Linked DNA regions of Homo sapiens. The protein of the gene in region 1 interacts with the protein of each later gene in a biochemical or structural test. Each region holds a gene or a part of one and is shown in the gene's direction. Other genes may lie near its edges. The genes, in order: RAP2B, RAPGEF2, RAPGEF1 and RALGDS.

Region 1 (5,882 bases):
GGTTTTGATTTGGAAATAGATTTAAAAGAAAACAGGCTAAGATAATATCCTTGTTCTCATTTACACCCTGCAGTTTGGACCACATTTGACCTCATAAGTTTTTCCTTTTAACAGTAGGAGGCAGTGTGAGCTTTTTATTTTTTATTTTTCTTAAGGTGGTCTTAGTAATATAACATGTTCATACATATCAAGAGAGTACTTGGTATACCTTAGGTCTATGAAGTGTAGCTGAAATCTGAAGAGTCTTGACAAAGGGATTTACACCCTTGACAAAACCAAAAGAAATTAACAGGCCACAGGTTTCTTTAAAGCTGTGTTAACATATCTTGCCTTAAAATGTGTGTGTGTGTTTTTGCTTTGCTTTTTTTTTTTTGCCCAAGAGGCATCTCAGTACTCCAGCAATGGAGGAAGAATAGAGAATTTTGCCTGGCAATGGTCCTACTGCCATTTTTTTTTTCCCACTCTGATCTCACTTAAGTTTGATATCAAACACAATTGGGAGGCAATAGTATCAATATCCTAAATGTAGAAATTAAAAGATACTGTATAATTTTATGCCTTTGCAAAGATTCGTTCTTGTATTTGAATAAATTCAGTTGCTAAAGTAGATCCAAAGTGTTAAAAATGCTGAAGTCATGTCAAGTACTGTCTGGAGGGTTTTTTTAAGAAAAGGCATTTGGCATTTAACTGTCTCTTGTTTTATTTTTAAGTTTTTGGAAACCTTTTGACATAAAATGCTGCCAAGTATCTAAGAAATGTATATACTGACAGAAGATATTTGAAAGTGGAAAATTGGAAATGAAATATGTTGCTGGGTGCGTTAATCACCTCCGCCCAGGATTTAGTCACTTGCAGGACCTCTTTATAGTCTAGGATGGCAGAGCAGAAGATTTTAATATGCTTTTATTAAGTGATGTAAAATAAATGCTTTTTGGATTATCAATGAAAGCAATTTTATGTGTGCCTGAAGCAAGAAAATAGCGTTTTTGGTTTTATCTCATATTTTCTTGGCAAAATTGAGAGAAATTAGGAACACTGCTATTTTTTTCTTAAAAATGTTTTTAAGAATATGTTCGTTTCTTTGACTATTAAGAACCCCTTGTGGTATTAGTGTGTGAAGAGATAAGGGCATTTGTTTCAATGAAAAAGTTAGTGTTAAAGGAAGTGAGTCAGGGAGGGCGGAGTTTGTTGTAAGGCAATCACCTGTCAAAACAGAAATTGGGTGGGAAAGGAGTCTTTATCTTGGGGAGCAAAAGCTGACTTTTAAACTTGACCCCTGCTGTTTTTAAACAGCTTTTCCTTTTGGTCTCTGACAGTCAATCCAGGTTTTATGTTATTTCAAAAGGGTTATTTTTGTCCTCCTTTTTTAATAGCTTCAGGAAAGTTAAAGGTATCATCTTAGGTCTAACACTCTAGTCTTTGAGAGTTACGGTTCTTTCGTAGAACAATTTCCATGTTGTTAACTGTTGTAGACTTAATTGAATCACATTTTGGGACCAGATGTATTTGGGGATAGAATTCTTTAAATGTATGGGACTTCATGCTTCCTGATTATGTAATATTTCCTGTGGTTGGGAATCCTAGAATGCCTGATCTATTTTATCTGTTCAGGTAGTTTTGTTATTGTACCCTCTTTTGGGTCATATTCTAGTATTTCTCACAGGGGGTATGAGAAACAGAAAGCTATATGTAGCAGCTGGTCTTGAGAAGTAGAAGCATCTTAACTGTCATAAGAGCATAGATTTTTTGTTTTTCACAACAGCTGGAATAAGTTCCTGCATTATAAGTATAAAGGGAACCGAGATTTAATTTGGAGATCATCACTGTTAAAACGATACCAGACATTTGTCACAGTGTCTTATTTGGGGAAAGTTTGCTAATATACATTTTGTCTGTGAAAATATAGTAAATTTTAAAATACTAATATAATGTGGTATTCTTGATTACAGTATTTTATGCAGACTATTAGGAATGATTCAGTGCATTTAACTGAACACAGAGCTAGTTCTAGGTGAGTGAGATCTTTATCTATTAACTGGATTTTGAAGGTTTGAGAAGGCTATGGGGATCATCTGGTTGAAAGGTTCTCAAACTTGACCATATATCAAAATCACCTGGAGCTTAAAACATGTACTGCTGGGACCCTCCTCCAGTTTCTTACCCAGTGGGTCTCGGGTAGGGTCTCAATTTTCATTTCTAACAAGTTTCCAAGTGATTGTGTTATTGCTGTTCCAGGGACCACACTTTGAAAACCAGTGATCTAGACTGAACTCCAAATGAGTACTATACTGACAGCCACCTAGATATTGAGAGACACAGACTTCAGACTCATGTCACACATTTTGGAGTGCTGTCTACTACAGTTAGAGAATAATCTCTATTGAAATCTAAGCTAAAGAGGACATATACCATTTATACTAAGACTAACTGTTGTGTGTGAAATAGAATAAACATTGCAGGTAGTTTTTGATCATTTTCACATTATTACAGGAACATTTTGACTATGGTTTTCAATGTTAATTCAGAAGTTGACTTTAAATGAAAATGTGGTTAGAATAGAGGCAAAGCCTAAGTGATCAGAATCAACATTCCCCTTCTCCCCAACCTAGGGGAAAAAAAATTTGAAAAGTATGTCTTCAATAAAAGGGGACACTTTATTTGTCTTCTCTTCAACATTAAAAAACAAAGATTTTAAGTTTTCATGGCAAGGGTTCTAAAAATCATTGTGCCAGAGAATTTAAATCTTCATATCATGGTAAGCACATGCGTATGTCTGTGACTCAGTTTCTTAGCCAGACTTCCAGGTGTTAGTTAATTCCTTCTCATTTAGTTCTACTGTAATCCATTCTGGGAAAATGCATACCACAAAACTGTGTATCTTGCAGCTTCTTTCGTTATGCATCTTAATTCCCTCAGAAGGTCCCAGAACTTTATGTTAAAGATCTGGGTTTTTAAAGACAATTTGGGGGCCTTCTAAAGAAACAATAGTAGATCTAATTACAAGTAGTGGATTGCTTACTTCAAATTTCTCTTTTACAATTTAGAAAGTTTAGTACCAGTTTATAGACTGAGGGAGTAGTAGCTACTATTTAGATGCTGAGAATAATATTATCATGCTTGGGTGGGGAAGAAAGGCCCTTACTCAAATCTCCATTTTCATTTTTAATGCTTCCTGGACTTCAGTTATTTTCTTGCTTTTGCCTCAAGAATAATAAATATTTTTGGTTAAAATTTTTTTTGTTCAACCCTGTTGTTGTTACTGTTATTTTCATAGCACAGTAGTCTACAGCTCTCTATAGTAGCTTAATAGCTATTTGCTGAATGAATGGAACATGGAGTGTTACATCTGAAACTATTCTATTAGAAGGTGAAAAGTGTTGATTGAAGAATGGTAGGATTTTATCTTCCCTACCCATGATAGATTTATTAAGATTGTCTTTGGAGCTATGTCTTCCATTCCAACTATACAGAAATAAACTTTTTTAAAGTTTAGTTTGCCCATCTGATAAAGGAACATTCCTGTATGCTATTCTAAGGTTCATTTTCAACAAAAGTTACAGACATTTATGGTTGATAGTTTGAGATCTATGACAGTTTTAGGGAGCTCCATATTCAAAAGGCTATTGCTGGTGATAGTACAATGAAACACTGACTTCAGTATATTTTTATCTTGGCTTTCATTTTACGGTTATTTCTACTACTGTTAATATGGACTAATACTTGATTTTGTGAACCTGTTTTAATTTTAGGGTTATATTTATGTTGGAATAATATATTTTAAAAGTGTCCTATACTATGAATTTATTTGCCATATATAAGACAATCAGAATTATCTGGTAGTTTATTCTAATCCTGGTTAATAATCATTAGGACTAAACTATTTACATTAAAGAAGGAAAAAACAATGAGATGATAATTTTTTTTTTCTTTGAGACGGAGTCTTGCTCTGTCGGCCAGGCTGGAGTGCAATGGCGCGATCTCGGCTCACTGCAACTTCCGCTTCCTGGGTTCAAGCAATTCTCCTGCCTCAGCCTTTCCAGTAGCTGGGACTACGGGCGCCCTCCACCACTCCCGGCTAATTTTTGTATTTTTCATAGAGACAGCATTTCACCATACTGGCCAGGCTGGTCGTGAACTCCTGACCTTGTGATCTGCCCACCTTGGCTTCCCAAAGTGCTGGGATTACAGGTGTGAGCCACCGCACCCAGCCTTTTTTTTGAAATGGAGTCTGGCTCTGTCGCCCAGGCTGGAGTGCAATGGCGCGATCTCGGCTCACTGCAACCTCTGCCTCCCAGGTTCAAGCGATTAGCCTGCCTCATCCTCCTGAGTAGCTGGGATTACAGGCGTGCACCACCACGCCCGCCTAATTTTTGTATTTTTAGTAGAGATGGGGTTTCACTACGTTGGTCAGGATGGTCTTGAACTTCTGACCTTGTGCTCCACCCACCTCAGCCTCCCAAGAGTTGGGATTACAGGCGTGAGCCACTGCACCCGGCTGAGATGATAATTTTATTTAAAAAAAAAATTGTAGAGATAGGGTCTTGCCGTGTTGCCCAGGCTGGTCTCAAATTCCTGGGCTCAGGAGATCTTCCCTCCTCAGCCCCTCAAAGTGCTGGGATTACAGGCCTGAGCCACTGCATCCAGCCAGGAGTGACAATTTCTAAAGCCTTAATTAGTGAAATGGTTTGTTTTGAGAAGCAGAAATGACTAAGTGGTATAGACATGCAGGAAAAGCAAAATGGGCCTTATGGCTATTGAAATTATGAGTGTTGATCTGTTCTATAAATTGGAGGAGACAGCTATTTGCATTCTTTCTTATCCAGTTGACTAAACTTACTCATTTTAAAATGAATTATCTTGCAAAATTATGTGAGGTTAAGTTTGTCAGAGGATTGAAAACGTGGTTGGTTTATTTGTGGTAATTGTGAAAAATTGCAAAGGTAGCAAAATTTTTTAAAAAATGGAAAAGAGAAAGATTATTGATGCCTTGTGAATACAGGTGTCCCCAAAAGGCCTGAGACCAACCTTAATTATCAAGAATATGGTTGCAGTGGAAATTGGTAAACAGCTGAAATTGATTCATTGATTATTCAACACTTATTGAGCACATACTACTATTATTAATAGCTGTACTGCGAGCGCTAATACTTAAAAGAGGAAGTCAGGTGAAGGCGCAACAGCTTTATGCTCTTTTTCACTATAATCTGTGAAATAGTGTATATTAAACAATAATAGTATATGGAAAAGCACATCTACATGTGTCATCAGTTATAATACTGTGGGGCTGTTTGGCAGACAATAGAGTAGATAAATTTATTGAACATTGGGCCTTTGAAAGGTATGTGGAAATTGTAAATAAAAATGGATTCCATGAATTTCAAATAATAATTGTTCTGTTGTATGTGAAACTGTGTAATAAGATTGTCATTTTATTTACTTTTCTGCATCATTTTCAACTTCCTTTTTGAGATTAGCTAAAATTGAACACTTACAAGAGGAAATGATTTTACTTTTATATTTTCATGTCCAAGGGAAGAGGAAAACATGAAGAAAACAGATTTATAAAATTTACTCACAAGGCTGGGCACGGTGGCTCACACCTGTAATCCCAGTAGTTTGAGAGGCCGAGGCAGGTGGATCACGAAGTCAGGAGTTCAAGACCAGCCTGGCCAAGAAGGTGAAACCCCGTCTCTACTAAAAATACAAAAATTAGCCGGGTGCGGTGGGAGATACCTGTAATCCCAGCTACTCAGGAGGCTGAGGCAGAATTGCTTGAACCTGGGTGGCAGAGATTACAGTGAGCCAAGATCGCACCACTGCACTCCAGCCTGGGTGATAGAATGAGACTCCATCTCAAAAAAAAAGTAAAATAAAATTAAATT
Region 2 (7,847 bases), on another chromosome or scaffold:
TGGCAGATCTTTGTCTAATTCTGTCTTCCAGGTTGTGCCTAGCACATTACTGGTGCTCAAATGTTAATAAAACAGCAATGCATGCCAAGTATCTGATGTCCTAGATGCTGAGTGGTGATATGCATTATTGACATATGTAGATAAGTAGGTTATACATAGTGTGAAAATTAGCTTTAATTGAAGTTAAATGATAGCTTAGAAGTTGACAGTGAGTTAGTCATTTTGTTGGTGGATAAGACATACTATTATGTCTTACCTGAGGTGATTGATGTAATTCAGTGTTACAGTAGAGCACACAGAGAAAAAAGACTTGGGTGTGCAACTGGAATTCCTAACTCTTGCTGTGAGATCTGGCAGAGAGGCATTCCTGTCTGGTGTAGAAGGTCCCCTCTAGCATCCCCCCTCCCCATGGGGCAAGGAGTTCCATACTCTCTGAGCACCTGGAACCCTGGTCCTGACTGCCTTGCCACTTCCAGACCTCATCTTCCAAGGCTGGCCCCTGGCCCGAGGAATCACCAAGGGGTGGCTTTTTTGAGGGGTGTGATATCACTTAGATGTGTAGGCTGGGTTGTCCTTGTCCTTTTTTTTTTTTTTTTGAGATGGAGTCTCACTCTGTCACCCAGGCTGGAGTGCAGTGGCTTGATCTCAGCTAACTGCAAGCAACCTCCACCTCCCAGGTAAAAGCAAATTTTCTGCCTCAGCCTCCTGAATAACTGGGACTATAGGCACACGCCACCACGCCAGGCTAATTCTTGTATTTTTAGTGGAGACAGGGTTTCACCATATTGGTCAGGCTGGTCTGGAACTCCTGACCTCGCGATCTGCCCACCTCGGCCTCCCAAAGTACTGGAATTAGTACAGGCATGAGCCACCGCACTAGCTGGGTTGTCCTCTTATGTGTGAGCCTTTCCATGGGATAGGATGAAGCTGAGATGGAAAGAAAAGGGGATTCCAGTTGCAGACCAGATACCAGTACTCCCTGCAGTAGTACTCAGTACTCCCCCAGTTAATTTGTAGCTTTTAGTATTTATGATAGAGTATATGGATCCCCATTTGTTAGCTGGCTCCAGAACTTTCTAAAGTTAAAGGCAGTCCGGGAACTAGGACAAGTCATGTAGCCTATTTTAGTGTCAGTTCTTCATCTGTAAATAAGATAACACTGTCCCACTAGCCTCAGAGAGTTGCAATGATGAGAATAATCTTAAATATAACTACCATTTATTGAGTATATACTGTTGTTAAACCACTATGCAAGGCACTTTGCATGTATTATCTTGGATCGTCACAAATCTTCAGGGTATGCAACTTTTTCTTTTTTTGTGACAGGGTCTTGCTCTGTTACCCAGGCTGGAGTGCCATGGTGTGATCATAGCTCACTGCAACCTTGAACTCCGGGGCTCAAGATAACCTCCCACCTCAGCCTCCTGAGTAGCTAGGACTGCAAGTGCACCCCACCATGCCCCGCTCCTTTTTTTTTTTTAAGTTTTTGTGCAGCCAGTGGTCTTGCTATGTTGACCAGGCTGGTCTTGAACTCCTGGCCTCAAGCTATCCTCCTGGTTCAGCCTCCCAAAGTGCTGGGATTACAGGTGTAAGCCACTTTGCCTGGCCAGACTATTCAATTTGTACTCTCTTTTTATAAAACAGAAAACAGGCTCAGAGAGGTTAAGTTTCCTCTCCCAGTTTTCTCCCCGCAACCAGGGACACAAGTGAGATAATGTATGTAAAAATCTCATACAAATACAAGGTAACATGAACTACTTCATGTATCCATTTAATACCTATTTGTTGGCTGCCTGTCTTGTGTTGAGGATATAGCAGTAAATAAAAGGGACAAACATCCCTGACTTAGAAGCTTACATTACAGTGGAGGGATAAAACAATAAATAAAATAAATAAGTATAGATGGTTCTCAATTTACGATGGTCAATAAATTGACTTTCGATTTTTCCACTTTATAATGGGTTTATCAGGGTATTAAATGCATTTCTGACTTACAATATTTGCGACTTACAATGGTTTCTCAGGATGTAACCCCATCCTAAGTGGGCAAGCACCTGTACAATATACAGTATGTTAGGTGGTAAGTAAAGCGACGAAGATAACCAGAGTGTATGGAGTTACAGGGAAGGTGACATTCAAATGAAGATATGATGACAATGAGGAACAACATTCTATATTTTGGTTGTTGTGTGTGTGCATTTTTCTTTTTGTTTTTTGTTTTTGTGGGTGCAAGTGGGGTGGGGAGAGGGGGAGAGATAATCCAGGCAGTAGAGGGAACAGCAGATGGAAAGGTCATGAGACTGGAATTTGCTGTTTCAGAAACAACATGGAGGCTAATGTGCTTGGGAACAGAATAGTAGAAGAGGTCAGAGAGATAAAGGTCCATAGGATATTCAGGCCATGGTAAGACTTTGGCTTTTACCTTGAGTGGTATGAGGAGCTAAGCAGAGGAATGATTTGAGAAGGAGTGAAAAGAATTCACACTTTGGCTGCTGTGTTGGAAATGAACTGTATGGCAAGCAAGGTTAGAAAGAGGGGGACCAGGTGGGTGGTTATGACAAAGTGCTGGCCAGACATGATGCTGGATTGCACCAGGGTCATGGCAGTAGAAGTGGTAGATAAAGGTTAGAGTTCAGATATGGCATTCTGGAGGTTGAGCTGACGATTTTTACTGACACTTTTGAGGTATAACAGAAAGAAAGGAGTCAAGGAAGTCAACGTTTTCACCCAGGAAGTGAGAATGGTGTAGATGTGATTAACAGAGGATGGGGAAGGCTGTGGGTGTCTGAGACAGGAGATCTGGAGCCTGGTTTGCACATGTGAATTCTGAGATGTCTATTAGACACCAGGTGGAGATGTCAGTTATATTTTTTCACTTCATTGGGTTTGAATTCTTTTATCTGCCTCTCTCCTTTTTTCAGAGCTGTATTGGCACTTATTCATGTTCCTTTGCTTTCAAGGTAGTGGCCTATGTCATAGAGAATTTGATGTTGGCGCTCAACTAAGAGGTGAAAGAGAAATATAGAGAAGCAGTTCCAGCAAGAGTAATATAAAAAGGTCTACAGATACAATTTGTAACTCAGATTCCCTTTCACAAGGTTGGGCAGGGACAGTCCCTTTGCTAGGAAGTCACACAAGCTGTTTAGTGCACACAGGTGACTTAAGGAACCCCAAAATGTTAGCTGACAATCTATTCCAAGTGTTTAAACTAGATGTTGAAAATCATGTTTGAAAAGTTCAACGCAGTAGCTCATACATAAAACTCATTGTGTCTATAGATATCAAAATAAGAACTTGTGGGGGGTGGGGGCAAACAAAAATAAATCCCTGGGACCAGAACAGCAGAGTGGTCCCCGATGCTTGGGCTGACCTTAACACACCTCTACGTGGCCGGGGCAAGGAGTGGGGGGGAGCTGAGGGAATCAGCAGGAGCGGTGACATCTTGAAGGACGAGGTATTGTTTCTGCACCATGTGGGTCCGGTTTGGAAATTTGAGCATCTAGAGGAGGAGGCTTGTTCTGTCCAAGGCAAAGCCAGACCTACCAATAAATGTTTCTGATTATGTCACAGAACTTGCCATCCTGGTCTGTCGCTAAGGAGTGATCAACTTTAAATCTGGAGTGTTTGTTGGTCTAGGGGTGGTAGTGGGTCTGGTGTTGAAACCTCTCTGCCTAATTTCGTGGTCATTTTACTGTCTGAGGTGCCAGAGTGGGCTTGGAAAGCAGGGGAGGGTGCAGCAAATTACAAATAAGCAAAATAAATCCTAAGAGGATTTATCGCCACAGAAGCAACTCGGACGCAACTCTTGGGCTCAAAAAGAATGCCCAGTACAGCCCGGGCTGGTGGGCCGGTCTTTTGCCCAAGGTTAGCTTTCAGCCCCTGGGCGGCGGCGTGGCGCCAGGAGCGGGCGGGGAGCAGCGACCCGACGCGGCTGGGTCTCCTAGTAGGGCGCGTCGGGTGTGGGGAGGGGGCGCGGCGTGAGACAGTGGGGGACACTGCGTGAGGAAAGCCCTGCGCTTCTCTCCGGGGCACCAGGACTTGCGCCCCCTCTTCGGGTCCAGGCCGCGCGCGGGACCCGACAGCCCGGCCGAGGGCTCCGCGACCCACTTGCGGCCAGAGCGCTGCTCACCTGGGCGCCGCCGAAGGTGCCGCTCAGACGCGAGGGCGCGGCCGCTGGCGGGCGGGGAGCGGGGAGGCGGGACCCGGCGCGACGGGGCTGCCCCGCCCCCCGATGATGCGGCGGCCGCCGACTCGCCCCCACGCTGTCACTCATTCCTCACCATGGTTGCAGCACAAAGCAACAAGCCCCAGAGGCCGCTTCCTCCCTGAGGAGCGGCTCCGGCGGCCGGAGAAGGCGCAGGAGGAGGAAGAGGCGGAGGAAGAGGAGGGGAATCGCCGCTTCCCAAACACTCTCTCCGAGGGGGCTGTGCGCGGCTCTCGGCTTTCGGCCCTCGGACGCCCGCGCCGGGAGTCCGAACCCGGGCTGTCCGCGGCCCCCTCTTCCCCCTCCTCCGCCCCGCGCAGACGAGGAACAAAGTTGCCGAGAGCGACTGGGCCGGAGGGCTGCAGCCCGGGCCGGGTGCTCTGGCCGCGGCGGCGCCGGCGCCGGGGCAGCTCCGCTCCGGGCGCGCTGATGGGGGGAGGCGGCGGCGGCGGAGCCCACAGCGGCGGCCCGAGCAGCAGAGGCGGCGGCGGCGGCGGCTGGGCGGCCCGAGGGGATGCAGCAGCAGTCGGGAGGGACGGCCGAGCCCAGTAGACAGAGACCAGGAGCGGCGGCCGAGGCGATCGGGCTTCGCAGCGCCCGGACCTGAGCCAGACCCACCTGGTCCGTCCTCCCGACCGGCGGCCGAGGCGCCCGAGGACTGGGGACGCGGAAGATCCAAGTGATTCTCGGAGACCCCTGGGCGGCGGCTGCGCAAGCCCCTGAGAGGAGGGGGCGACCCTCAGCGCCGTGGGGGAGGAGGCTCCGCCTGCCCACAGCCCTCCCCACTGCCACTCGTACCTCCCTAAAAATAACTCGGGCCCGCTGGGGCCAGGAGGAGCCGCCACTGTCCCCCGAGTGGAGCCGGGGAGGCGTGTCGAGCCAGGGCCGGAGGAAGCCGGCGGAGCGGCGAGGAAGAGGAGGAGGAGGAGGAAGGGGAGTTCCGCCTGCGGGCCGCATCGCACGGCAGCCTAGGGGCGCCGCGACCCTCCCGGCTGCGTCCAGCCCCTCGCGCCTGTACCGCGCTCTCGGCCGCCGGGCCCAGCCGAGCCGCCCCCCCGCGGGCCCCGCGCCGCCGCCGCCGCGGTTTGGCTGATTAGTCGCGGGCGGGCGGGCGGGCGCAGCGCGCAGGGCGGAGGCAGCAGCGGCGCTGGGCCGGGAGGAGGCCGGCCAGGGTGCGGAGCGGCCCCGGCCCGCTCCCAGAGGGGAGATGGCGTCCTACGTAGATAACAGCTTCCGCCAGGCGGTGATGAAGAATCCCCCCGAAAGGACCCCCCAGGTGAGAACGCGGCGGCCGCCTGCCCTTGGCCGGATTTCTGCCTCGCAGGCTGCGTCTTCCCCTGTCCCCCCACCTCCTTCCTGACACAGTTCGCCCCGAGCACCCCACTTCTTGCATCAGGACCCCCAACTTCCAAAGGCATCCCACCTCCGAGTCTTTTACTCCGCCTATCCTGGTTTTATTTTTCCCTCTCCTTGACATTCTGCTCCTTAACTCTTCCCTCCCCATGACTGACCTTTCCCACTATGTTGCCCAGCCGAGAGAGAGAGAGAGAGAGAGAGAGAGAGAGAGAGAGGGAGAGACAGAGAGAGAGAGAGAGAGAGTGTGTGTGTGTGTGTGTATGTGTGTGAATGTGTGAATTCTCTAGCTTTCCCTCTCCCCAGCCGCCCTCCGTGGCCTCTGAATCTCAGGGGATGGAGTCTCATCTCCCCTCGGGCAGCGACTCTTGCTCCCTCTGACTCCAGATCCGTTCCTCCCCTTGCAAGTGACCCTTGGAGTTCAGTGGTGTTTGAAAGGTATAGGAGGAAACCTGTACGGTTGTGCTAAAGACAAATCCATGCTGACCTTCAGTAAAACATTGAGGTGTTTGTATGTTTACTGTTTTGCTTTTATTTTTTAAAGGATACTGCTTTCAATTGAAGGGAAAAAAAGTTGAATAGCTAAGTTAGTGCTTTTAGTTTAAATTGCAGACATAGCTGCAGAGCAGGCATGTTCCAGTACACCCTCGGGAAGGGCACCCTGCGGATTCTTTTGGTGTTGCACAACCTTGTCAAAATTAGATAAGTTTGTTAACCTTTATACATTTGTTTACCTGCAGGCTTACTCTTCTCTTACTTATAGCGGCTGATAGGGTTGGATTTGGTTGTCTCAAGTTTTACTGGAGAGGGGGAAATTTTATAAAAATGTGGTAGCTTAATTTTCTCCGCCTTTAGTTGCTGACTGGATAATGACGCATATTCCTAAGCGTTGGGATGGTGACTATAGGAGATCCTGCCTGCCAACCCTCTTAAGACAAATAAGCCCTCCTGATCCTTGGGACCATCAGACATTTAGGATCTAATGCTTGAAAGTGTTGCTTCGCTTGTTAGATGTTGGATGCCATCTGTTCAAATCCAAATGCTCTCCTTCTCTGATGTTGATTATTATTTACTGTGGGGAGAGCATAATAAAATAGACTCTTCCCCTGGCTGCCTTTGGACAAGCCCCAAGAGTGGCACCTGGTACCGTTTTTGATTTTTCATTTTCCTTGATGGAGCTGTCACATCTGGGAGATCATGGATAGATTGCACATATTTATCAAACGTGTGGAAGATGGCTGTAATTTTACAAGAAAATTTATCTGTCTCCAGAAAGTTCCCATTCTAAAAGACTATTTTTATCCCAACAAGGAATGTCCTGCATTGATCTTGTTCTTCTCTTGGTGTTGCACACGCTGCCTTTCCTATGCCTTTCTCATCTATTTGTTTTAAAATGGTCAGTTGGATCAGTCTTCTGCATCTGAAAATGCACATTCCCTGTCTCAGTGTGAAGGAAAAGCAGATTTCAGTGAGATATTTCATTTCCTTTCAAGAATATTGTTTTAAGTGCCAAGTGAAATTACGCATGCTGAGAATATTAGAACCTAGCAAGGCTGGTCAGAAAATGATGTCAGAGGCCTTTGGTGGAAATTAGAGAAGGGGGAAGTGGTGCATTTGGTTGATTAGTTAGAAGAATAACAATGACTAAAACCTACTATCAGGTTGGGGGGCGGGTCACCAAACAAGACTAGAAGAGACAAAACCTCCACTGTGACTGTGGGCCCACTGTGCCAAATAAATGAACTGTTAAACTTTCCTGTTCCCCTGCCAGTTGTGTAGAATAGAGTAAAAACTGACCCAACACAGAACTTGGCCTGGGCCAGCTACTACTAACCCACGACATGAAAGCTTTATTGACAGTCGGAAGGCAGCCCATTTGCCCTACCAAACCTTCATAGAAAAAGTAAACATAAGGAAACCTACCAAACATTTCAAACATTCCTAAGTGTCAGCCCTATTAACTTTGATGTTCGTTTGGTTATTACTACAAATCCCCACGTTTATTTCTTTTCAAGAGAAAGTTGTTCGAAATGTGAACGTTTTCCATCTTTACCTGACTGGCCAGGAGTAATCTTATAAAAATTTGAAATTTACTCAAAAATTATAAAAAAAAAAGTTTTTGTAGAAGGTACTTTTTATGTTAAGAATGCTTTGTTAATGGAACGCTGGAAGATTTTCCATACAGCCTTGTCTTATAAATGTTTGTGAGTTCGAATTTTATAATATTAGAAAAGCAACCATGTTAAATAAGCTTGATATCATGAACAGAAGGACAGGAATTAGGAAAGTT
Region 3 (8,072 bases), on another chromosome or scaffold:
GCGAGGTATTGAATTTCCTGCCCTTTGGTTCTACCTATGAGACATTCTTTTTTTTTACCAATAGATTCCCCTTTGCCAACATTAAGTAGGTATCTACAACACGTGACCAAACAAACACTCTCTTATCTAGACCCCGCCCTCCCAGGATTCATGTCAGGATTGAGGCAGTGACTGAGCAGTGCCCAGCCACAGGCAGCCCTCAGGAAGCATCAGCCCTCATTCCCATGACTCCTGTTAGTAATGGTTTCACCTCCTCCTCTGATCTACAATGGTGATGTAATGAAGCAATACTCTCTGTCCACAGGGAACGGACAGTGGTGTCTGGGAGTTCAGGCAGGTGCCTGCTAACAGATCCCACCAATCCAAGCTGAGGTGGGCCCCTGGCCACCAGCCTCACTCTGGCTGTTTTCTACCCGAGTCTCGTGGAGTTCCTGTTGTCTGAATAGCTGAGTGTTGTCTGCAAACGCAAGAAGAGGATGTGGCGCTTTTGCAAGGGGCCCCCATCTAAAATAGTCTCTGTGAGCAGGCTCAGAGCCACCTAACTATTTCTTCCATCTTCCACCATGGAGTCTGGAGAGCTGCTAGGGTAGAGTGGTCACCTGGCTCACCCCATCCTTCCCTGGAATGTTGGGAGAAGGCCTGACAGCACCCACCCGAGTGTTGACTGAGCCCCTTCCCTCTGCTGGAGTTGGTGCTGCCGCAGTACAAGAGCCCGGCATGACCCCTTGTCTTAATAGGGCTTTATTTTCTGTTATCTTACAATTTATTTTGTTTTCAGACACAGGTCTCACTCTATTGCCCAGGCTGGAGTGCAGTAGCTATTCATAGGTGTGATCATAGCACCCTACAGGCTTGAACTCCTAGGCTCAAGTGATTCTCTTGCTTCAGCTTCCTGAGATGCTAGGCTGTTCCACAGCCTCTGCTCCCAAGTTTTCTCACAATTGGCACAATTCCTAGGCTGGCCAAGTCACATATTCTACCCCATTCCTGCAGTCATTGGCCTGGGGATAGACGTGTGACTCAAACTGAGCTAATTAGACTCTGCCATGGGGCTCTCTTTGAAACAATGAGGAAAGAGATCCTCTTTGTCCATTGGGGTTGTTAAGCAGGCAGGTGACAGGCCCAGGACTGCTGGTGCCCAGCTTCACCCTTTGCTACCTTGTAGAGAAAGATGACCTGAGAAGGGAACCAACATAGAGGACCAATGGCCTTGTTCCAGAGCCTGGGTTAGCTGCATTTGGACCTAATTGTACACCTGGTTTACTAATTATGATCTTCAAAAAATGCCCTTCTTGCTGTAAGCAATAGCAGAGCTAGGTTTCTGAGAGTGAAATCAAGTTTCCTAATCAGTACAGGAGGATGGCCCTGTTGGGGCGTGTCAGGGAAGCATTCTCCATAGAAGTGACAGTGAAACTAAGAAGCAAAAGATGACTGGGACCAGCCAAGTGGAGAGGAGGGGAGGGAACATTCTAGACAGCAGGAGCAGCTCATGAGAAGGTTCCAAGTCAGCCAGAACTGGGCTTTGGGAATCCGTTTGCTTCATTACCTTGTGTGTGTTCTACTATAGTTATAAACATCTTTGATGAATAGCCTTTATTAAGTAAGTTCTGTGACCCTGATTTACCATAATGTCCATTTGCAAAGTACTTTGTTGTTTGCAAATCTTTTGTCATTGGATATGTCATAATTTATTAAATATATTTGTGTTCTCACAAACCCCTGACTGCACCTAGTATCCATGCAGTCTAGTTTTCTACTTTTCAACCAGGATTTTGGATTTAAAATATCGGCTCTTCTCAGCTCAGAAGCCTAGAAGGGTTGGGGGCAGCATTGAGTGTGTTTTGGGGTTGGGCCTGGGACCAGGGGCCAGTTTTGCCTGGTAAGGCATCTGCCAAGAGGGCTGAACAGGGCCACCCTGGATCAGAGCATCCATTCATCAGGTGGAAGAGGGAAATGAATTTGTCAATCTTTGGATTTGCCTTTGACCTCTAGAGGGCTGCAACTGATGAAATGATGATGGGAAATTTGGCTGCCATCTATGACCATCTCCTTTTTTTTTTTTTTAAAGAGGGAGTCTCGCTCTGTCACCCAGGCTGGAGTGCAGTGGCGCGATCTTGGCTCCCTGCAACCTCTGCCTCCCAGGTTCAAGTGATTCTCGTGCCTCAGCCTCCTGAGTAGCTGGGACTACCAGCGCGCACCACCACGCCCGGCTATTTTTTGTATTTTTAGTAGAGATGGGGTTTCACCATGTTGGCCAGGCTGGTCTCGAACTCCTGAACTCAGGTGATCTACCCACCTCGGCCTCCCAAAGTGCTGGGATTACAGGTGTGAGCCACCACACCCGGCCTGACTAGCTCTTAGTTGTGGAATCGGTGACCCTTTAGACTGTCCAGGGAGATGGGAATAAGAATCTCTCACAACATTAGCAGTTTTTCCTCCTCCCTGCACCTCCCCCAAATCCTGTCCCCATCACTAGGTTATTTAATTTACTTATTTTGGGGGAAACAGGAGGGAAAACTAGCCCAGGTGGTGCGTGCTACTTCTTTGTATTCCATCTTAGACTAACAACAGGAAGCAGGCAGCAGAATTGCCCCACATTGGAACATCACTTGCGTTACTAATTTGTTGTTATTTACTACTTGTATTATAGGATTTAACTTTGACTTCCCAGCTAAGTTGTGAACTCTTTGGAGGGAAGCACCAATTGTGCCCACTTTTGTAGGGCCCACAGAACCCGAAATAGTGCTTAGACTTAGCAGATCCTTTGATTCTTAAATGACTTTTTTTTTCCTTTTTTTTTTTTTTTTTTTTAGCCAGGGTCTTCCTCTGTCACTCAGGCTGGAGTGCAGTGGTGCAATCATGACTCCCTGAAACCTCTGCCTCCAGGGCTCAAGTGATTCTCCCTCATCAGCCTCTCAAGTAACTGGGACTACAGGCAGGTGCCGCCGTGCCTGGCTAATTTTTGTATTTTTAGTAGAGACGGAGTTTCACACATTGCCCAGGCTGGTCTCGAACCCCTGGGCTCAAGTCATCCACCCACCTCAGCCTCCCAAAGTGCTGTGATTGCAGCCGTGAGCCACTGTGCCCAACCACGACTTTTTTTTTTTTTTTGAGACGGAGTCTCGCTCTGGAGCCACCAGGCTGGAGTACAGTGGCATGATCTCGGTTCACTGCAACCTCCATGTCCTGGGTTCAAGAGATTCTCCTGCCTCAGCCTCCCAAGTAGCTGGGACTACAGGCGTGTGCCACCATGCCCACCTAATTTTTGTATTTTTAGTAGAGATGGGGTTTCACCATGTTGGCCAGGATGGTCTCAATCTCTTGACCTCGTGATCCACCTGCCTCGGCCTCCCAAAGTGCTGGGATTACAGGCGTGAGCCACCGTGCCCAGCCACGACTTTTAATGAACTCATTTCCACACTAGAAAAGTTCCACAGCTGAGCCCCAGGGTGCCCTTCTGGATGTCAAATAAGCAGGGCAGGCAGGGTGTGCTGTGTCCCTGAGGGAGTTGGGCCCAGGCCAGCATGGAGGCTCTAGGCCTCAGGGGACATTTAGGCCTGAGTAGGGCCAACCCCAGCCCGGGACAGGTGGCTCTCGCTGGCAGGGTGACTGAGTCCCACATGCAGGGCTGGGGTGGAGAATGAATCCTCCGCCTTGGCATAGACCTTGGGCCAGCAGAGGGCTTTCATGCCAGAGTGGACTCATTCCCCGGCTGGAGCCTCTGGGCTGGCAGGAGGTGCTATGAGGCCACTCCCAGGCCCTGGTGTGGGGTCTCCAATTAAGAAGGGGGTGCGGGCAGGGTGCAGTGGTTCACACCTGTAATCCCAGCACTTTGGGAGGCCAAGGTGGGTGGATCATGAGGTCAGAAGATCGAGACCAGCCTGGCCAACATGGCGAAACCCCGTTTCTACTAAAAATACAAAAATTAGCTGGGCATGGTGGCATGTGCCTGTAATCCCAGCTACTCAGGAGGCTGAGGCAGGAGAATTGCTTGAACCCGGCAGGCAGAGGTTGCAGTGAGTCGAGATCGCGCCACTGCTCTCCAGCCTGGCGACAAAGTGAGACTCGGTCTCAAAAACAAAAAACAAAACAAAAAAGGGGGTGCTGCATCTCTGGTTTGGGGGAGGTCAGGACAGGCTCCCAGCCAGCAGAGCTTGTTGAGTCCTGGTGAGAGTGAGTTCTAGGCCCTGGTGTGGAGCCTCTGGCCCACAGGGGATGCTGGGTCCGGGATGATGCTAGGGTGGGGTGGGCGTCAGTTCCACGTCCTGGGGTGGAAAATCTGACCCAGGAGGGTTCTCTGTGTCTCTGGTGAGGGGGCAGGCCAGGCTCTTGGGCAACCGAGGACCCTGGGTTGGAGCTGTCAGTCCCAGGTCTGGAGCTGGTGACTCTGGTCCCACAGCAGAGGAATGCGGAGTCCCAGGCGGGGTCGGCCCCACACCCCAGGCCCCAGGCCCCGGCGTGGGGACTCCGGCTCGGCAGGGGGCGCTGCGTCTCGCGCGTCGCGCGGGAGGCTCGGGCGGCTCCGGGCCCACAGGGGGCGCTGTGGCGGCGCGGCGGGCGCCCGGCAGGTGGCGCTGTGGCCGTGGCCGCGGCCGAGGCCCGGCGGGCGGGCGGGCGGCGTCGCTGCGCTGCGGCCGGCTCGCGGGCCGGGGGAGCGGCGGCGGGCGCGCGGGAGGCGGAGCGGCGGCGGCGGGCGCGGCGGGAGCGGCTGGGCCCGGGCGGGCTGGAGCGCGGTCGCCGAGCGCAGGGCCGCGGCCGCGCGGAGCCCGCCATGCCGGCGCGGGTCTGAGGCGTGGCGAGCCAGGGCCGAGGCGAGCGGCGGGCGCGCCGCCCCTGTCGCCCCGCGGCGGCCCGGCCCGGGCCCGATGAGCGGCGGCCTCGGCCTCCGGCGCAGCCCGGAAATGTCCGGCAAGATCGAGAAAGCAGGTGAGGCGCGGGCGTGGGGCGGCTCCCTCCGGCCGGGCCCGGCCCTGGGGCTCCGCCGCTCCCCGGGCCGAGCGCGGGTCGCCCGGGATGTGCGGCCCTCCGTGCGCCGGGGCGGGGTGAAGCCACCGAGGCCTCGCCGGGGCGCCTGGCAGCTTCTCCTCCAGGCCCATTGCCTGCCGGGCGCGGGGGGAAGCGGCCGCTGCGGGGGCGCCAGGGGCCGGGCCGGGCGGGGCCCCTGCAACCCGGGGCCGGGCGCGCTAGCCGCTCCGCGGTCCCCGGGAACTTCCGAAAATGGCTCGAGCCCCAAGCAGGGGAAGAACAGCCCGGGCCGCGTGCTGCTGCGGCTGCAGCGATCGGTGCCCGGCCTGGGCTCGGCGCTAGGAGGGTGAACCCAGCTGAGCTGTAAAATGTGTCATTTCTAACGAGCTTCGAGTTTAACGAGAAGCGTCCACTTCGGTTGCTTCAAAGGAAGCAGGCTGGATGAGTGGGGGTATTTTGAGGAGGTAGTCAAGTTTCCCCTCCCCACCCCGATCAAGCTCAGCTCTGCAAGGAGGGCAGGTGGGGGACCGGTGGGTTGGAGTAGATGGTAAATCTTGATGCAGACCTCGTCTCTTTGTGTGTTCCTAGAAATCTGGGGGAGTTACCTTCCGAGTCCCTGGGTTTGCCTGTCCTGGAAATAGAGTCTCCAAAGATTCAATGACTGTCGAGCCTGTGGGGCCCCAGGCTTTATTAGCCTGCAGCACCTTGCAGGGCAAATGCGAATTCTTGGGTCTAAGGTGAAGTGGGCGGGTGCTCCTGGGCTCCTGTACTGGGAGCATGCCCTGTGGTCATAACCCCGGTAGCAGGTTAGCTTGGCGGCTGAATGAGGGAAAGCAGATTTTTAGGGAGCTGCAAAGGAGGTCTGTGGCTTTGATTGTGGAAGTTGCTTATGTTTCCTGGGTTGAATCTGGGATACTTCTGTGGGGTGCACCCCTGCAGCGGACCCACAAGGCAATATGACTTTTGCAGGCTGTGGTTGAAGCACAGAAGGACATTTTTGTAGGCTTTATTGAGGGTTTACTATATATCTAACTCTTAGCACCTAAAATGCATTGCTTCTTAAATTTTTGAAGCTAGTCTGTGGGAAAGAATATGGTCCCAGTTTTACAGGCTCAGAGAGGTTCAGTGAGTTCCGGCTGTCCAGACAGCAAGAGGGCGGCAGGCCCCTAGTATATTCATTCCTGGCCCTCTGACCAGAAGCCAGGGTGCTTTTCTCAGGGGCAGGGCGCTTGGGTTCAGGTGCCATTTCTTGAGTATTTTTCTCACTGAATTTGAGCCCCCACAGCCTTGCCGAGTGACCATGAGTCGCCATCCTGTACACCTGCTGCTCCAGAAATAACTTGGGTTCATCTGTGCAGCATTTCTCAGGAACTTCTTGTATAGTGTCTTGTCAGAACGGTACTGTTGGGAAACTTGGATAATTTATTTTAAAAAGAACATTCACTGAGTTCTTTTATAAGAACTTTATAATATATAAGATTATATTATATCTTTTTATATCTAATATAAGATTATATTATGTTTTATATCTTTATAATATAAGAATATTCTATGTTCATTGTCAAAACTTGGAAATCACAGAAAAGTAAAATGAACCGGATTGGAAATCATCTGTCAGCCAGGTACAGTGGCTCACGCCTGTAATCCCTGCATTTTGGAAGGCCAAGGCAGGAGGATCACTTGAGCCCAGGAGTTTGAAACAAGCCTGGGCAAAATGGCGAGACCTCATTGCTACTTTAAAAAAAATTTTTTTTTTTTTTTTTGAGACGGAGTCTTGCTCTGTTGCCCAGGCTGGAGTGCAGTGGTGCGATCTCGGCTCACTGCAAGCTCCGCCTCCTCCTGGGTTCACGCCATTCTCCTGCCTCAGCCTCCCGAGTAGCTGGGACTGCAGGCGCCTGCCACCACGCCTGGCAAATTTTTTTGTATTTTTAGTAGAGACAGGGTTTCACCGTGTTAGCCAATATGGTCTCGATCTCCTGACCTCGTGATCCGCCCACCTCGGCCTCCCAAAGTGTTGGGATTACATGCGTGAGCCACCGCGCTGGGCCTCTTTTTTTAAAAAAAGGAAAAAGTTGCCTGTCATCCCATGAGCTGCCCAAACCGCTGGGAATGAAATGACTCTTCATTTGAGTTCTCTGCTATTTGGGAGAAAGACCTGAGGCCAGTTCATTTCAGCATAGTTTGTCCTTGGGCCTTTTCTGGGCACCGCCTTCTGCTAGGGGGTTGTAGATGAAAGTGCCTGCTCCCAGAGAAGCTTGTCTAACCTAGCACAGTTTCTAAGCTACCCAGGCTGCCAGACCGAGCGACCGTGCTGCCATGGACACAGGTGAGAGAGGGGTGTCATGAGTGCGGGAATGAGGAAGACACTGGAGGGGACAGTGTTTGTGCTAGGCTCTGAAGAGAGGGCTGAGATATATACCTGGTGGAGACAGGGAGAAAGAGGAGAGAGGGGAAGGGGCTGACCAGGAGCTGCGGAAAGTGTGGGAGGAAGATGCATTTTGTGAGAAGCAGAAAAAGTAAGAGTTCTGAGATTGGCAAGACCAGGGTCAGGACCTCGCCTGCAGATTGGGGATTGCAGATGTGGAGCTGGCTGGAAGTCCAGCCTCCTTGCAGAAGGTCTTTTGCTGCAGTTCATAGGAATCATAGTGAAAGATTACAACTGCCAAGGAAGACTGGGGCGCGCCTGGAGTGAGGATGACCTTTCCTGGTGGTCTCTGCTGGCTATTCTCAGTGAACTTCCCTTTGCATTTAGACGACATTTTGTTAGATTTCTGTTGGAGTTTTTTTAATGGACTTCCCACTATTCAGTCTCCAGAGGAGTATTTGATTCAGAGGAGAGGCCCTTAGGTGAAGTGGTGGCAGAGCCTGACACCAGGCAAACAATTGTTGTGATTGGAGTTTTGCTGTTTTGTTATCTCAAAGCAACAGAAACGTTGCTTAAATATGTTCATAATCTCCTCTCCCTGAAAGTAGAAGAACCAGCGTTTTTAGTTCTCAGTGCTTAAGGCATCCAGGGTTTTTTGGGTAAACAGGAAACCCCTTCACATCCCGCATAGTGTGCAGCTCTGGCCTGTTCCTCATCCCGCCCCCTTGCATTGCCTGATACC
Region 4 (8,579 bases), on another chromosome or scaffold:
GTTACAGGAGAAGAGGGAAATGTGGGTTTTTATGTGAAGTCGCCTGACCTTTTACTGTTGGCTTAAAATTTTAAAAACACTTCGCAAGCCAAACAAAACACATGTGTGGGTGGGATCTGGCTGCCAGCTGTCAGTTCACAGCCTGCCTTTTAAAGTTCCTCTGCGAGCAGCGTCCCGACTTCCGAAAGGTCTGTGCAGCCGTGCTCTCCAGGGGCTTGTGGTTGTAGCCCCCAAGGAAAGGCAGGTGCACGTCCCGGGGGGAGGTTGGGAACCTGGGAAGGCTAGGTGGGGGTGTGGGGGGGCGTGAGCTGGGGCAGGAGGGAGGAAGGGATCAATGCCGATTCATAAGAACCCCCCACTTCCGGGCAGTGCTTAGTGATCTCGAGAGTCCTTAGTTCCTCCCAGCAGAGGCTCCAACCGCCAAGCACAGGGTTGTCATTGGCCTTGAGTGTCAAACCCACCCAAGTTCACCTGGACTGCCCCCAGCCATCTCTGATAGCCCCATGTGGGCATCCGGACTCGGGTTCTAGCTGCCCACGGCCTCAGTCCCCACAGCAGAGCCCCCAACCCCTTTTGTAGTGAAGATGCCATCAGTGACCCCTGTGCCCACAGAGAGTAATACAGGAAACGGTGAGCCTGGCAGGAGTCACTGCCCGGGGTCAGAAGTTTGTAGCCCTCTCTGGAGGACTGCTGGGAGCCTCAGAGGCATCAGAGGGTGAGTCTCAAGCTGTGTCCTTTTTCTTCTTTTTTTGAGACGGAGTCTTGCTTTGTCGCCCAGGCTGGAGTGCGGTGGTGCAATCTCGGCTCACTGCAACCTCCACCTCCCAGGTTCAAGCGATTCTCCTGCCTCAGCCTCCCAAGTAGCTGGGATTACAGGCACGCGTCACCATGCCAGGCTAATTTTTTTGTATTTTTAGTAGAGATGAGGTTTTACCACGTTGGCCAGGCTGGTCTTGAACTCCTGACCTCAAGTGATCCACCCAGCTCAACCTCCCAAAGTGCTGGAATTACAGGCGTGAGCCACTGCGTCTGGCCATTTTTCTTCTTATAACTTTTATTATGGATAATTCCAAATAGACACAAAAATAGAGAAAATGGCATAAAGACCCCCAGCTTTCACGACCATCGGTGCAGGGCCACTCTTGTTCACCTCTCACTGCCCCACTCCCTGCCCGCCCCTGGAGATGTTTACATGAATCCCAGGCATGTGATGCCATCCACAGATAGCCCAAGATGTAACTCTACTAGTGACGGCAACACCATTCTCACACCTAAAAAGATGTCTAATGTCATCCAATATGTAGCAGTGTTCAGACAATCCACATGTCTTATAGTTGTTTTTTTTAAACAGTTGTCTTGCTGACATCATGATCCAAAATCCACACATTGCATTTGTTAGACGTCTCTGACCCTTCTTTTAGTCTAGTTTCCCCTTTCTTTTTCCTCTGAAATGTATTTGTTGAAGAAACTGGGTTGTTTGTCCCATAGAGGTTCCCACAGCCTGGATTTGTGGATTGCACCCTTGTGGTGTGTTGAACATGTTTCTCTGTCCCCTGTAATCCCACAAATGGCAGTTATATGCAGAGGCCTGCCTTGATTTAGGTTTGGGTTTTGAGGAGAACACTGTGAGTGGTGCTGCGTTCCTCCACTGGTGACACACGCTGTCCCAGGATGGCCTTGCCCTTGGTTAGGGTGTCCCCACAGCTTACAGGAGGCCTCAGGAGAGGGTCTTGCATGCAGGAGGCGTCCCATGAATGCCAACCCCAGTTGCTAACAGTGTGAGGCAGAGTCAGGCCCGCCCGATCTGAGGGCATTGGGCAACACATCCTGTGCAGGGAACTTTATCTGTGCCTTCATTAGGGGGGCATGTGTATCTGTGTTTCTGTCTCTATGTGTGTGTATCTGTGTCTATGTCTCTATATCTGTGTGTGTGTGTCTGTGTCTATCTCAAACTTGTTTTTTCCCTTTTTGTGGAGAATGGGGTCTTGCTATGTTGCCCAGGCTGGTCTCCAATTTCTGGGCTCAAGAAATCCTGCCTCTGCCTCCCTAAGCTCTGGGTTACAGGCATGAGCCACCACACCCAGCCTCTGTGTCTGTCTCTATGTCTCTGAGTAGGTATGTCTCTGTCTGTGTGTCTCTATCTCTGCGTGTGTGTCTCTGTTCCAATGTCTCTGTGTGTGTGTCTCCGTCTCTAAATGTGTGTGCCTGTGTCTGTCTCTGTGCGTCTGTGTCTCTGTGTCTGTCTCTATGTGTGTGTGTGTGTGCCTGTGTCTCTGTCTCTATGTGTCTCTGTGGGTCTGTGTGTGTGTCTGTGTCTCTGTCTCTATGTATGTGTCTCTGTGTGTGTGTGTCTGTGTCTCTGTCTCTATGTGTGTGTCTGTGTGTGCATCTCTGTGTATCTTTGTGTCTGTGTGTGTGTGTGTCTGTGTCTCTGTCTCTCTGTGTGTCTCTGTGTGTGCATCTCTGTGTATCTTTGTGTCTCTGTGTGTGTGTGTGTGTCTGTGTCTCTGTCTCTATGTGTGTGTCTCTGTGTGTGCATCTCTGTGTATCTTTGTGTCTCTGTGTGTGTGTGTGTGTCTGTGTCTCTGTCTCTATGTGTGTGTCTCTGTGTGCATCTCTGTGTATCTTTGTGTGTCTGTGTGTGTGTGTGTGTGTCTGTGTCTCTGTCTCTCTGTGTGTGTCTCTGTGTGTGCATCTCTGTGTATCTTTGTGTCTCTGTGTGTGTGTGTGTGTCTGTGTCTCTGTCTCTATGTGTGTGTCTCTGTGTGTGCATCTCTGTGTATCTTTGTGTCTGTCTGTGTGTGTGTGTCTCATGTACAGCCAGAGCAGTGATCAGGCTTCCCAGAAGTTGGGAGGTGAGTCCCAAAGGTAGGGGAACAAGGCAGGAAGAGGAACTTTGTAAAAACAGACACCGGCCAGAGGGACTGGCTAAGTAACGCCCTCCCCCGCCCTGGCTCCTGTAGATGATATAGTCAGATGGGAGGGAGCCAGGCCAGCCGCGTTGGGGGGTTTAGTGTGATGAATTCTTTACTCTTCACCACTCCAGCCTCCTTGGGGCCACCCCTCGCCCCAGCACCCAGGACCTTCAAGGCCAGAATAGTGGTGATTCCTCTATGTCCTCATGAGTCACTTGTCCTTCTGGGCTATAAAACGGGTGGGCGCTTGTTCCCAGGCCCATCACTCAGCGAAGGAGATAAAGAGAGCAGAGGAGATAAAGTCAGTGGCAGGCAGCTTCTGGACTTTCAGTTTCCGGAGGCATTGGGAGCTTGGCCCCAGAAGAAAGGGATGGGAGGAGGAGCTTAGGGCCGAGGGCAGTGTCTCGGTCACCTCTTTGTGGCCCTGTGGGGACCTCCTGCCTCGAAATACGCCTCACCCACATTACCCTCCCTGGCCAAACGGCTTGGAGGCTTCCTAAACAGCCTCTAGGGATCTCCATCCCAAATCAAATCTACCCATCTTGCTTCTTAAAAAAAAAACAAAAACAGGCTGGGCGTAGTGCTCCTGCCTGTAATCCCAGCTCTTTGGGAGGCCGAGGCGAGCGGTTCACTTGAGGTCAGGAGTTCAAGATCAGCCTGGCCAACATGGTGAAACCCTGTCTCTACGAAAAATACAGAACTAGCTGGGCATGGTGGCAGGTGCCTATAATCCCAGCTCCTCGAGAGGCTGAGGCAGGAAAATCACTTGACCCCAAGAGGCGGAGGCCTTAGTGAGCCGAGATCACACCACTGCACTCCAGCCTGGGTGACAGTGAGACTGTCTCAAAAACAGCATTTATCACATAGAGCTGATTATTAAAATACTGATTTTAGAAATTAGAAATTCAGAGAAGTAAAATGAAAACCAGTAGAGCTTCCACCCAGCTGCAACTTACCACCATAATTTTTGTGAAGTAGGCCCTTCTAGTCGTGTGCACATGGGGGTCTTGTTCTGAACGGATGAACTGCCGCCTCACTCCAGTCACAGTGGAAGTGTTTCGTGGGTGTCTGAGGATTGGCACTTGGGAAGGGGGCAAGATGTGCTCGTGGAATGTGCTGTCTGGTCCCGCCCTCTCAGTTTACAGATGGAGAAACTGAGGCCCAATAGTACGGACCAGACCTGGGGAGGTTGGCATGGCCAGGGCTGCTGGCAGCAATTGCTGGCCTCCATGAAGACTGAAGGCTGAGGCCAGGGCAGGCCCAGTGATGAGTGAGGCATGAGGAAGGGTCCCATTCATTCATCCATTCTCCTGGCCCTGCTGTTAAGCCCCAGGCTGTCTTCCTTCCTCACTGGCTTCCAGAAAGAGTAGTTGAGGATGTCCCTGTCCCTGCTTCCCCTTCAGCCCCAGCAGCCCCACTTCCACCCTGAGACCAGGGATGTCCAAGCCACAAGCAGCCCCAGCTGACAGGCCACGCAGCCATGTGCTCTGCCCAGCGTTGTCACTCTTGATGCCTTCCTCCTTGTCAGATGCCTCTCAGCCCCAACCTTGGTGCCTTCCGCTCTCCCCCACCTCCCTGGCTTCCCCTCCTCTGAGGGTGTCTGTAAGGGGATAGTGTGGGGCTTTGCCCCAAAAAGGTAGGGCCCCACTCTCTGACCCTTTCCCCCACTGCACACACAGCCCCACACTCAGGATTTCCAATTGCACTGACAGGGTCACTGAACACATGGTCAGCCTCTCCAAACTCCGCCTGAGCCTGTAGTCAGGTGCAGGTGCTCAGTGCTGAGTGCTTCATGTCCATTACGTAATGTCATCCTCCCCGCAACTGTTTGAGGAAGTCATTTTCACTACCCAGATTTTCCAGATGAAGAAACAGTGAGGCTCAGAGGGGTTAAGCAACTTGTGGAAGGCCACAGAGTTGGGGAGAGGCTTTGCTGGAATTCGGGGTAGCTGACTCCAGGGCGGCTTCCCCACACATGATCAGCACGTACACATTTCAGCCCTACGCAACACACGCACTGCAGCAGCGTGACACGCAAACGGTGCCTAACCGGGGTACCCAAGGCCCCACGACACACGTGACAGCCGGTCCTCCGGGAGACCCAGCCAACGCGCACCCCTCGACCTCCCCGGCCCCGCCCTCTTTGTTCAGACCCCGCCCCTCCAGGCTCCCGGTCCCGCCCCGGGTCTGACCTCGGCGAGGGCGGGGCCGCGGGCGCGCGCACGCACGCGTCCCTCGGACTCTCCGGTTCCGCCCCTCCCCGGCCCCACCCTCTTCCCCTCCGGCCCCGCCCCCCAGCCTGACATCAGCAGGGCCGGGCCGCGGGCTCACAGCGGTGGCAAAGCCCAGCCGCGCGGGCCGCGCCGCCGCCCCCGCCGCGCGCCGGGCCGGCCCCGCGCCCGCGCTGCGAGCCTTCCATGGTGCAGCGCATGTGGGCCGAGGCGGCCGGGCCTGCTGGCGGCGCCGAGCCGCTGTTTCCGGGCTCCCGGCGGAGCCGCAGCGTGTGGGACGCCGTGCGCCTGGAGGTGGGCGTCCCCGACAGCTGCCCGGTGGTGCTGCACAGCTTCACGCAGCTAGACCCCGACCTGCCGCGCCCGGAGGTGGGTGAGCTGGGGCGGTCGGGCGGGGGGTGCGTCGGAGCCTCCCCACCCGCGGCAGAGCTGGGCAGGTCGGGGCGAGCCCCGGACGGGGCCGGGCGATCCCAGCGGGCCGCCTCCCTCCTCTCTCCTCCATAGGTGGGGGTCGGGGCCTTCTGCAGAAATCAGCCAGCAGGGTGGGCAGTGGGGGCTGCCGCCGCGCCCCGTCCAACAGTAGGGACCACGGCTGGGGTTTTGCGCCCCTCAATACCGTTCCAGGGCCTGCTGTCACCAAGGCCGCTGCAGCCCAGGTGGACCTTTTTCTGCGGCACTGTCCCTGTTTACATCGGTGGCCTGTGCCTTATTTCACTCAGTTCCCACCCAGGGCCCGCAGCGCGTCGTTAGCCTTTACGATGCAGGTGTGGAACAAGTGGTCGGGAAGGCCAAATCCTAGAATCCTCAGAGGTGATGAGACCATAGGGGCCTTCCAGACAGACCCTACTTGGGGCAGATGTGGATCTGGTGACCAGGGACATCGGGGCTGCTCAGAGCGGGGTGGGGGGGGGGTCGGGGGATGGGGTGGAGCAGCAGGCCTCCAACACGTGGGACCAGATGTCCTGGTGGTGAGGGGAGGAGGGTGGCCCAGGCCCAGGGCGGGCAAGACTTGTTTCTGCTTAACTGGAAAGAGTGCCAACACCCTGAATCGGTAAGGACTGGGTAGGATTCAGAGAAGGGAGTGGTGTACCTGTGATGGATGGAGGGGAGGGTGACTAGGTGAGGGCGGGGGCTTGTTTCTCGTGTGCCCTGGGTCTCTGGGTGGTGCCATCTGCCTCCCACCTGACTGCTGCTGACTACACAGCAGAGGGAGTGGAATCCAGAGATGCCCCCCTCGCCCTGCTCTGCCTGGGCACAGGGCCTGCACAGAGGCCATTCCTGGATCGGGGGCTCAGGGCCCATCAGAGCTTTGGCTGGGCTGCAGCCTTCACAGTGAACCTCCTGAGTCCCCGTGCGGCATCGTGTTGCCTTGCTGCGTCTCCAGTCGCTTCATGGCTTTAGACTGTGGCGCGTTGTGATTGCTGGCGATTGTTAGCCTGAGTCTCGTGCCTCTTGGTGTCCCGGTACCTAGACAGGGCCTGGATGCGACTTGTTTCTCCGCCCAGTGTTGGGCAGAGCTCTTGGTGGGGGAACACCACACGCCTGAGAGACCCTTTCCTCCTGAGCTTGGCAGATGGCCGGACCAGACGTGTTCCCTCAACCCTCATCTATCCAGGGCTCTGGTCCTCATTGGCGGCTGGAGAGGGACCCCTGGGAGGGTGGGGGTGGGAGGCTGACACCAGCCCAGCGCTCATCTGGCTTTCATTACCTCTGGCAGCAGCTCGGGCTTTGTGTGCTGGGAGGGTCCGGCGGAGCGCTCACAGTGGCCGTGCAGGTTCCCTCTCTCCGTCCCTGAGGAACTGAGGGAGAGGCAGAGCTGAGCCCCACCCCTGCCTGGGGGTCTTGTCTTCCCTCTCTCTGGCCCTGGCGCTCCTTGCCCAGCCTCAGCACTGAGATCCAGACCTCGACTGCTATTTAGAAATCAAAGGGGAAGCTTCTGGCTGGGTCAGGAAAACCAGGATCCTGGCAGGAGAGGAGGCCACTGCCGGAAACTGAACACAATGACCATTTACCAAGGGCCCAAGGGAGGGGGCGGGGAAGTCCCTGTCCCTCCTGCCAACACCCCCCGTCCTGGGGCTGGTTTCCTGGTGTCTATGTGGCCTGCCAGAGCTGACGCTGCGCACTTGGTCCCTGTCCTCTCTGGAAACCACCAGACAGTTTCTGCCTTCCCCCGCATCCCTGTTTCCCTACCTAGCTTCCACCCGGTGCTTCCCTCTGGGCTGCCAGATCTCCTCACATCTGGGCTTCCGCTTATCTTCCCGATTCTAAGCCAAGCCACCAATGACCCAGCTTGGCCTGCACAGTTCTTGCTTTCTGGAGGTGACCTGGTCCGTGCCCCCATCTCTGGACAGGCTGTTGCTTTGGCCAGACAAAAAGTGCAGGTTGTGGGCCACCCCCTCACTTCATCTGCCTTAGACCAACCCTACAGAGTAGGTGCCAACACCACCTTCTAGGAAGCTAGGGGGTCAGAGAAGGGAAGTCTCTGACCTAAACACCCGTGCAGCCAGCAAGGGCCGCAGCCAGGATTTAAGCATGGGCTGTGTTCTCTGTGGCACCTACTGTGTGCAGGAGCCACCAGGAGTCAGAGGAAGCCCAGGCAGCCCAGAAGCCCTGAGGTCAGGTGAGCAGTAGGGAAGCTTATGGCTCAGAGGAAGGCAAAAGTGCTTTGGGCCACAGGACGCTGGGGAGAGCTACCTGGAGGAAGCAAGCCCAGAACTGGACCCCACAGGTTTAAGATAACAGCTAATAAGAGCCAGCAGGTTTTGGGGAGGTCCTTGGCTAAGTAATTTGCATCATCTCCTTTTGGGGTCAAGACTGTTAAGAGCTCACTTGACAGATAAAGTCACTGAGGCAACAGAGGTGAATTAGATTGCACAGAGTGACCAAGCTGGTCAGTGGCAGGGCCAGGATTCTGACCCAAGGCCTGAGGGCAGTTGCAGGTGGGCTGGAGTGAAGAGGGCTTCTCTGTATTCACAGGGAGCATCTCCCTTCAGCCTCCCGCGTCTTCCCACTGTTTGATCTCTTGATCACACTGTGTGCAGGTCTTCGGTTTAATCCCCAGGGCTCATGAGCACTTTGACACTGAAGACCCCAAGGCAAAGGGCCTGTCCCTGTGTGGGTGTGTGTCCCTGCATGCATGTGTACAGACTGTGGTCTTCCAGGAGAGCTTCCTGGGTGACTCTGAAGGGGCAGCCCCCAGGACCCTCAGGTTCCCCTCTTGCTCTACTCGGGAGGGTCCCCCAGAAGAGGGGGACCAGGCTGGCTGGTCCTGGGTCTTTGTTCCTTCTCCAGGCGGGGGATGCTCAGGCATGCTGGCCTGTTTCCCGGGAGGCTCAGGAATGGCCCTGGGAGATATCAAGCTGCTCGTTGCCAGAGCTGGGGTCTGATTCTTAACCTGGAAATTGGGCATTTCCAGGACCTGTCTGCGTTGCCA

The links.
Region 2: the proteins of RAP2B (region 1) and RAPGEF2 form a complex in vitro, tested with the Homo sapiens proteins (one study listed by BioGRID).
Region 3: the proteins of RAP2B (region 1) and RAPGEF1 form a complex in vitro, tested with the Homo sapiens proteins (one study listed by BioGRID).
Region 4: the proteins of RAP2B (region 1) and RALGDS form a complex in vitro, tested with the Homo sapiens proteins (one study listed by BioGRID).

Annotation. Positions count from the first base shown.
Region 1 is NC_000003.12:153,165,246-153,171,127, forward strand, and holds the end of RAP2B (ras-related protein Rap-2b), read left to right. Parts: 3' UTR 1-5,382; downstream 5,383-5,882. UniProt on the Homo sapiens protein: Small GTP-binding protein which cycles between a GDP-bound inactive and a GTP-bound active form. Involved in EGFR and CHRM3 signaling pathways through stimulation of PLCE1.
Region 2 is NC_000004.12:159,098,752-159,106,598, forward strand, and holds the start of RAPGEF2 (rap guanine nucleotide exchange factor 2), read left to right. Parts: upstream 1-4,327; 5' UTR 4,328-5,411; coding exon 5,412-5,480; intron 5,481-7,847. UniProt on the Homo sapiens protein: Functions as a guanine nucleotide exchange factor (GEF), which activates Rap and Ras family of small GTPases by exchanging bound GDP for free GTP in a cAMP-dependent manner.
Region 3 is NC_000009.12:131,736,624-131,744,695, reverse strand, and holds the start of RAPGEF1 (rap guanine nucleotide exchange factor 1), read left to right. Parts: upstream 1-4,619; 5' UTR 4,620-4,865; coding exon 4,866-4,926; intron 4,927-7,248; exon of another isoform or gene 7,249-7,281; coding exon of another isoform or gene 7,282-7,291; intron 7,292-8,072. UniProt on the Homo sapiens protein: Guanine nucleotide-releasing protein that binds to SH3 domain of CRK and GRB2/ASH. Transduces signals from CRK to activate RAS. Involved in cell branching and adhesion mediated by BCAR1-CRK-RAPGEF1 signaling and activation of RAP1.
Region 4 is NC_000009.12:133,117,908-133,126,486, reverse strand, and holds the start of RALGDS (ral guanine nucleotide dissociation stimulator), read left to right. Parts: upstream 1-5,246; 5' UTR 5,247-5,332; coding exon 5,333-5,515; intron 5,516-8,579. UniProt on the Homo sapiens protein: Functions as a guanine nucleotide exchange factor (GEF) activating either RalA or RalB GTPases and plays an important role in intracellular transport. Interacts and acts as an effector molecule for R-Ras, H-Ras, K-Ras, and Rap.